2 linked regions of the Homo sapiens genome follow. The protein of the gene in region 1 purifies or fractionates together with the protein of each later gene. This does not show direct contact. Each region holds a gene or a part of one and is shown in the gene's direction. Other genes may lie near its edges.

Region 1 (3,500 bases):
TTCTGGCAGACAGAACAAAATATCACAGACAACCGAAATTTATTTTCTCACAGTTCTGGAGGCTGGAAGTCTAACATCATGGTGCCAGTTTGGTGGGTGAAGGTTCTCTCCTTGGCTTGCAGAAAGCCACTTTCTTTTTGTGTCCTCACATGGCACAGAGAGGGAGAGAATGGGAGAGGAAGAAGGGAGAGGGAGGGTGGAGGAAGGGTGGGGAAGAGGGAGGAGAGAGAGATGGGGAGAGAGAGAGAGAGAGAGAGCTCTCTGGTGTCTCTTCATGATGGGCACTAATCCCATCATGAGGGCCCCACCCTCATGACCTCATCTAAACCTAATCACCTCCTAAAGTCCTCACCTCCAAATACCATCACATTGAGAGTTAGGGCTTCAACATATGAATTGTCGGGGGGACATAATTTAGCTCATAGCAGGAGATGATATGAAAAATAACCAATGATGTTAGTGTTTATAGGCAAGTAAGTAAAGTATATTTCTCATGGCTTTAGAGAGGAGGTAGGATTTGAGCTGCACCTAGAAGTACAGCCCAGGCTGGGAAGCATTTACAGCACAGGGCCCTGAGGCACAGGAACAGCCCTTCACCCCCTCGACAGGGCCATGCCCTTCTGAAGACATGAATGGGGTCAGGGAGGTCAGCGGGAGGGAGATGAGAGACACTGGCCAGAGAGACACCTCCTGCCTTCAGCCAGGTTTTGTTTTTCTGTAGGGAAGGAGATGGTTTGTCAAAGATACTATTTCTTTTTTCTTTTCTCTTCTCTTTTCTTTCTTTATTTTATTTTATTTTATTTTATTTTATTTTATTTTATTTTATTTTTTGAGACGAAGTTTTGTTCTTGTTGCCCAGGCTGGAGCGCAATGGCATGATCTTGGCTCACTGCAACCTACCTACACCTCCTGGGTTCAAGCGATTCTCCTGCCTCAGCCTCCCAAGTAGCTGGGATTACAGGCATGCACCACCATGCCTGGCTAATTTTTGTATTTTTAGTAGAGACGGGGTTTCTCCATCTTGGCCAGGATGGTCTCAAACTCCAGACCTCAAATGATCTGCCTGCCTTGGCCTCCCAAAGTGCTGAGATTACAGGTGTGAGCCACTGCACCTGGCCTAAAGCTACTATTTCTTAACCTGAGCAGGGCTGAAATTTTAGGGGCTTTCTTCCCAAGGCAGGTTTTGTGAGCAAGACAGCAGCAGCGCCACCATCCCCAGAGGAGGACACGGTGGGATTGAGGGAGGAGGAGTTCTTGGAAGTTCATTTCTGTGGGTAGTGTCATCTGAATCACGGTCAGAAATTGCCATTGGGGAGATACCATCAGGGATAACACATTGTTCAGCAGAAGAACCTCTAGATCTTTCAGTGGTGCCATGGCCTGCGGTAGCTTTTTGGTTTTCGGGTCTTCTGGGAGTTTGGATTGAACAGACACCCCGGATACAGATCATCCACAGGATGGAGATCTTGACTCACAGGGCCTTTGGTGTGGCATCTGGGTGCATGGACACAGCCTTCCCTACAGAATCCCACAGAGGGAAGGCCATCCAACTCTTCTTTATGTTATTTTTATTGGACTGTCTTCAGTGGGCAGAGAGTTGAGGTTTAGGGTTTTTTGTTTGTTTGTTTTTGGATCTTCACTGTTTCATTGTGATAAAATATACATAACATAAAATGTATCATTTTAACCATTTTAAGTATACTGCGCAGTGGCAGTAAGTATATTCACATTGTGAATTGTTTCCTCTTCTCAAACTGATGGGGTTGGAGAAGGTTTGGTTTTAACTGTGGCTCCAGGAAGTCATACAGTGATACCGTCTCAGTTCGCTCTCTGCACAATGGCCTCACCATCAGATGTCCTGTCGACTTGGGTAATCTTTCTGCTGCCATTTCTCTCTTATTCCTTTCTGTTTGTTTGGGTTTAAAAAAAAAATTATCTGCTTCAATCAAAAGCACTTCTGTGAGACTGCCCTCCTGTGGGCTAAGTACTTTGTACAGAACCTTGCATATTTCTCCCCAGGGTCCTGTAAGGTAGTATGATCACCCACCCTTTCCAGATGAGGAAAGTGAGCACCACAGATGTAAGTAACATACCCGAGGCAGTGTAATTTCAGAGCTGGGACTTGATTCTGGACTCTCTGATTCTTCCTGCTTCATCTAGACAGGGGTGTCATTGTACAGAGTCAAGCACAGCTTCCCTGTCTGGGCACATTAGTGTCTACTCGAGAAGGTTTCTAGCATCTGCACGGATCTGGGTTTGTATTATGTGAACCATGTTCCATTAGGATTCTTCACTGGGGCCTTTAGCCAAAAAGGATTCACTTAAAAATAGCTTCATTACATACCACAGATAAACTGCTAATGGAATTTACCAAACTGTTAAATTAAGCTTTTCAACTAATTACACACATACTATGAAAGTGTGAGTTTAGCTTTGACCGTGGATTCCTCCCAAGGCAGAGAATTGGTGCACGTTCTCTGGCTAGCAGGGGTTTGGTCACCATCTCAGCTCCTGTTCTTGGTCATGATCTGTTTTGCTTTCCTGTCCCCTCTTGGTATCTCACCACAGCTTGATTCTGCATTTACTCAGGACACAGTTTGTTCCTAGGCTGTGGTTGTCCTGGCCACAGATACTACAGAGTGTATTTGCTATTTCCCCAGCGAGCATTCTTTCTGGCATCTGACACATCTTCTGCGACGTGTCCTCTGGCACATTTCCTATTGCTCGTCATTACCCTCCCCATGGACTGCAAGCCCCTACTGTGTGTCTCAGAACTCAGATTTTTGGGTTGAACTTTCTTTAGGGCACAGGGTTCTGATGTGGCTTAACTCTGGGAATGAAGTCAGCTGGGGAAACAGCAAAGCATTCAACAAACTTCTGGGTGGGCTGCATGCTTCATAATAAGATAATTTGTCAAATGCCTGCCATGTGCCAGGCATTTTCTGATATAGGTCTTACCATGTCCTTTTTACAGTTGAGGAAACTGAGGCTCAGACAGGTTCAACAACTTGTGTGGGTTCACACCAGACACCTAGTCCCGGTATAGACACCTGCACCGTGGACACCTCCCCCAGGCTGTTGATCCCCCTGTGCCTGACTGGCTTCCTACAAAGGGCCGACCCCTTGGGTTGCAGGGTCTGCTTCATAACAGAGCTCTCTCCACACGCCTGTAAAATGGGAGGCAGAAGCCGCCGACGCCGTATCAGGTGAGCTGCCCCAGGCACAGGCCATCCAGAGATATAGGGATGGAAAAGGCCAGTTTAAAAGTCTGATATAGTACTTCGTTTTAAGGAATGCAGTTTTAGTACATTGAACTGCAGCTTGAAGTGGAACCAGAGACACAAAAAGGAACTGCCAGGTAAAATGAGTGTCAATGAAAAAAGAAAAGTTACTCAGCTTCCATTACGTAGTCACACATCGCAAACTAAACGTATTTTTAAAAAATGTACAAGCCCTATTTACAGAAGTTTGAAATAGAATGAAAAGTTCTAATTTGTACT
Region 2 (4,185 bases), on another chromosome or scaffold:
AAGCTCTTCATGGTGCCATCCAACACCCTGGGCAGGGGCCAAGCAAGGTGGCCCATGCCTCTATGCCCAGCACTTTGGGAGGCTGAGGTGGGAGGATCACTTGAGCCCAGGAGTTCGAGACCAGCAGAGGCAACATAGCAAGACCCATCTCAATTTTTTTAAAAAATTTAAAAATTAGCTGGACATTGTGGCACATGCCTGTAATCCCAGTGCTTTGAGAGGCTAAGAGAGGATTGCTTGAGGCCAGGAGTTTAAGACCAGTCTGGGCAATACAGGAAGACTCTATCTCTAAAAAAAGAATTTTTTTTTTTTTTTTTGGCTGGGCACAGTGGCTCACATGTATCATCCCAGCACTTTGGGAGGCCGAGGCAGGCAGGATCACCTGAGGTCAGGAGTTCAAGACCAGTCCGGCCAACATGGTGAAACCCCATCTCTACTAAACATACAAAAAAGTAGCCAGGCTAGTGGCGTGCACCTGTAGCTCGGAGGCTGAGACAGGAGAATCGTTTCAACCCCGGGGTCGGGGGTTGCAGTGAGCCAAGATGGCACCACTGCACTCCAGCCTGGGTGACAGGGCAAAACTCCCTCTCAAAAAACAAACAAAAACAAATTTTTTAAAAACTACCACGGTGTGGTGGCTCCTGCCTACATGTAGCCTCAGCACTTTGGGTGACTGAGGGCAGAGGATCACTCGAGCTCAGGAATTCGAGGCTGCATTGAACCGTGATCGCACCACTGCAGTCCAGCCTGGGCGACAGAGCCAGACCCTGTCTCAAAAAAATAAAAAAAAAAATCCTGTGAAAACTCGGGCGTGGCCAGACGGATTCTCCCCTCCCCACCTTCCTTTCCCCTCCACTGCCCACCTGCACCCGCCCGCCCTGTCCCCACTCCCCGCCCCTCTACGCAGCCAGCGTCCAATGCTGGGCACCCCCCGAGGCTCACCCTGCCAAGCCTGGGGCTCCCCTTTTGCGCCCGGACCCAGGGGCAGGGAAAGCCCAGCTCGTGGTCTGTGGGTAGCCGGACCCCCGATGGGGCGGTGGGGGGCCTCGCCTTGACTCCCAGAGCTGGGGCCGGGGACAGGAGCTGGGGCAGGAGGGATGCGCGCGGGTCGGGGTCTTCCCACCTCCCCTGCTCCTCTCCCTCGCGCGATCCCGGGGTGGTTCCAGGTGAGGCGGGGACCCCCACCCCCCCACTCTCCGAGGAGGCGCCGCCAGCCCCGCCCCTCCCGGCCCGGCGGGTGACGTGGCCGCGGCTCTCCCGCGGGTGGGTCACGTGTTGGCGGCGCCTGGTTGCCTTGGCAGCGGCTGCGGCGGCCGCGGGGGCGGGGTGGAGGCGGGGCCGGGGGACCCCGCGCGACCGGCGGAAGGAGGGAGGGGGCCGCGCTCGGCGCCCCGGCCGGGCCACTGGGCCACAGGCCACGCGGCCACGCAGTCCGAGCGGGAGCCGAGCCGGGCGGGGCGAGGGCAGCTCCGGTGAGTGTGGCGGCGCGGGGGCCTGGCGCGGGGAGCGGGGTCCCTGCGGCTGGGGGGGCCGGAATTGGACCGGGGACGCTCGGCGGGGAAGGGGACGACTGTAGGCTGCCCGGGCGCGGTCACTACCCATCCGGGGTTGGTGACCTCCACCCCGCGGGATCCCTGGCGGGGTGCGGCGCCCAGAGGATCAGGGTCGGCGGCGCAGCCGGTTCCGGACACCGGGGCGTCCCTGGGGGAGGGACAGGGATGCAGCCTAGCGCCCCTGGGAGGCCCCCTCCCAGTGCGCCTGCTGGAGAGAGACACTCGCCATTGCCGGTGCCCCAGATGCTTAGAGGAAGTCAAACTCCAAGACCGCCCTCTGGAAATGTGTCCAGTAGGCCAGCCAGGAAGAAAAGCTCATCTCTAGAGAGGGGATCGCGTTATTCTACAAGACCTGTTTTCTCGGACTGCTCATTAAAGCAAAAAAAAAAAAAAAAAAAAAAAAGCAACCCCACAAGGTTCAGTCCCGGAGCATCCTCTAGGGTCTGTGCCACCTGACAGAAGTACAGGGCTCCATCCTGCCCCACCCCACCCCCTGCCTGGGATCCAGTGTGAGGCCCAGACTCTGTCCCTCCCCCTGGGCCACCGGGCCTGGCACACACAGTTGGCATTGGGAACATAAAGGATGGATTTGAACCCCCTCCTGGGCTGCTCCTTCGAGACCTGGAGACCTGTCTCAAGACCCAGCTCCAGGCAGACAGACATCGTTTCCTCCACAATCCCACCCACTCTGGGGACATCTGCAGGGCCTCACCGATGGGGCATGGGAGGCCTGGCGGCTCCCAGGAAGCCACCCTCAGCCCTCACTGCCCTGAGCTCTTCACCTCCACTCTCAGACCTGAGCCCAGCCCACCCTTACTGATGGGGCATCCCTCTTGTTCACCCTTCCTTCCTTTGGAGGCCACCAGGCTCTCCCTTGCGTCCCACTCCTGCCAGTCGGCCAGCCATTTCCCTGGGTTGAACTGTGGTCCCAAACCAGAATGATCTAGCAGTGCCCAGACCGTTCCACTCACCAATTTCTTCCATTCTCCTGTGGCTGGACGCCCAGTCATGCTGCCCAGACCCTCTGGCTCATTCCACAGCCCCAGGCTCCAAGTGTCTTCCACCCACATCTCCCTGCCCCCTCCACCCCCCAGGTGGCAGCCAGTCTTCCCTCCATATCTCCTGGACAAGGAGAGCCACCCCACATGTACACCTGGAGTGGCCTTCCCGTCTCTCGGAATCCTTCCATGCAGGCAGCATCTTGTCTTTGAGGAAAGGTCCCTCTTTTTTAAAATTCTTTTTAGAGGCCAGGCGCAGTGGTTCATGCCTATAATCTCAGCACTTTGGGAGGCCAAGGTGGGCGGATCACTTGAGCTCAGGAGTTCTAGACCAGCCTGGCCAACATAGCAAAACCCTGTCTCTACCAAAAATACCAAAAATTAGCCAGGTATGGTGGCACACACATGTAGTCCCAGCTACTCGGGTGGTTGAGGCGGGAGGATCGCTTGAGCCTGGGAGGTAGAATTTGCAGGGAGCTGAGATTGTGCCACTGCACTCCAGCCTTGGTAACACAGCAGGACCCCATGTCAAAAAAAATTATTTTTAGAGACAGCGTCTTACTCTGTTGCCTAGGCTGGTCTCCAGCTCCTGGCCGCAGGTGATCCTCCCACCTTGGCCTCACAAAACACTGGGATTACAGGCATGAGGCACTTTGGCATGCAAAGGGCCGCTCTGTCCCCTCCCCGGTGTTACCTGCAAGCACCTTTTCCTGGCCTTGGTGTGAGGCAGCCAGTCCTCTGCTCCCTGCCCTCCATTGAAGCCTTTAGCTCAGTGGATGAGGATTGCCCCCCCCTCTTTTTTTTTTTTTTTTTTGAGATGGAGTCTCGCTCTGTTGCCCAGGCTGGAGTGCAGTGGTGTGCTCTTGGCTCACTGCAACCTCTGCCACCACACCCAGCTATTTTTTTTTTTTTAAGACAGAGTCTCACTGTGTCACCCAGGCTGGAGTGCCGCGGTAGGATCTCAGCTCACTGCAACCTCCGCCTCCTGGGATCAGGCAATTCTCCTGCCTCAGCCTCCTGAGTAGCTGGGATTACAGGCGCCCACCACCATGCCCAGTTACTTTTTGTATTTTTAGAAGAGACAGGTTTCCACCATGTTGTCCAGGCTAGTCTCGAACTCCTGACCTCTAGTGATCCGCCCACCTCAGCCTCCCAAAGATGACAGGTGTGAGCTACTGCTCCTGACCCACATCCCCTTACCTTGCTCCCCTACTGGGAGGCCATGAATTCTGGCCTCTTTCATCTTGGATCTTTAAGTACCAAGTGCGCTAAGCACCTGTGTGATGGAGGAGGGAGGACGGAGGGAGCAAAGGTTAGCGTCTCACCCCTCCAGTCTCTGTATACTGCGGTCATCAGACCTGCATGCTCAATTCTGTTAACTATGGGGGTGGGGGGAGAGGAAAAATGCAGTTTCCAAATTACAGCATTTTCTATTATGTGGAGCTAACCTACGGATTGCAGCGTTTCTCTGAATTCTCCCCAAGGGAAGGAACGTCCCAGGGATGGAAGTGCTTGGATGCGGTGCTGCTGGCTGCGGATGTGCGCAAGGAGATGGGATGGAGAGCCTGAGTTGGCATTCGTATAAATGACCTGGTAATTGGCATCCCCTGGCAGAAATAGCACAGAACTGTTCC

What was found. The genes of interacting proteins can lie anywhere in the genome.
Region 2: the proteins of CRACR2A (region 1) and ORAI2 purify together in Homo sapiens (co-immunoprecipitation; one study listed by IntAct). This does not show direct contact.

What each region holds. Positions count from the first base shown.
Region 1 is NC_000012.12:3,743,110-3,746,609, reverse strand, and holds part of CRACR2A (EF-hand calcium-binding domain-containing protein 4B), read left to right. Parts: intron 1-3,500.
Region 2 is NC_000007.14:102,432,190-102,436,374, forward strand, and holds the start of ORAI2 (protein orai-2), read left to right. Parts: upstream 1-1,385; 5' UTR 1,386-1,472; intron 1,473-4,012; exon of another isoform or gene 4,013-4,035; 5' UTR 4,036-4,144; intron 4,145-4,185. UniProt on the Homo sapiens protein: Pore-forming subunit of inward rectifying Ca(2+) release-activated Ca(2+) (CRAC) channels.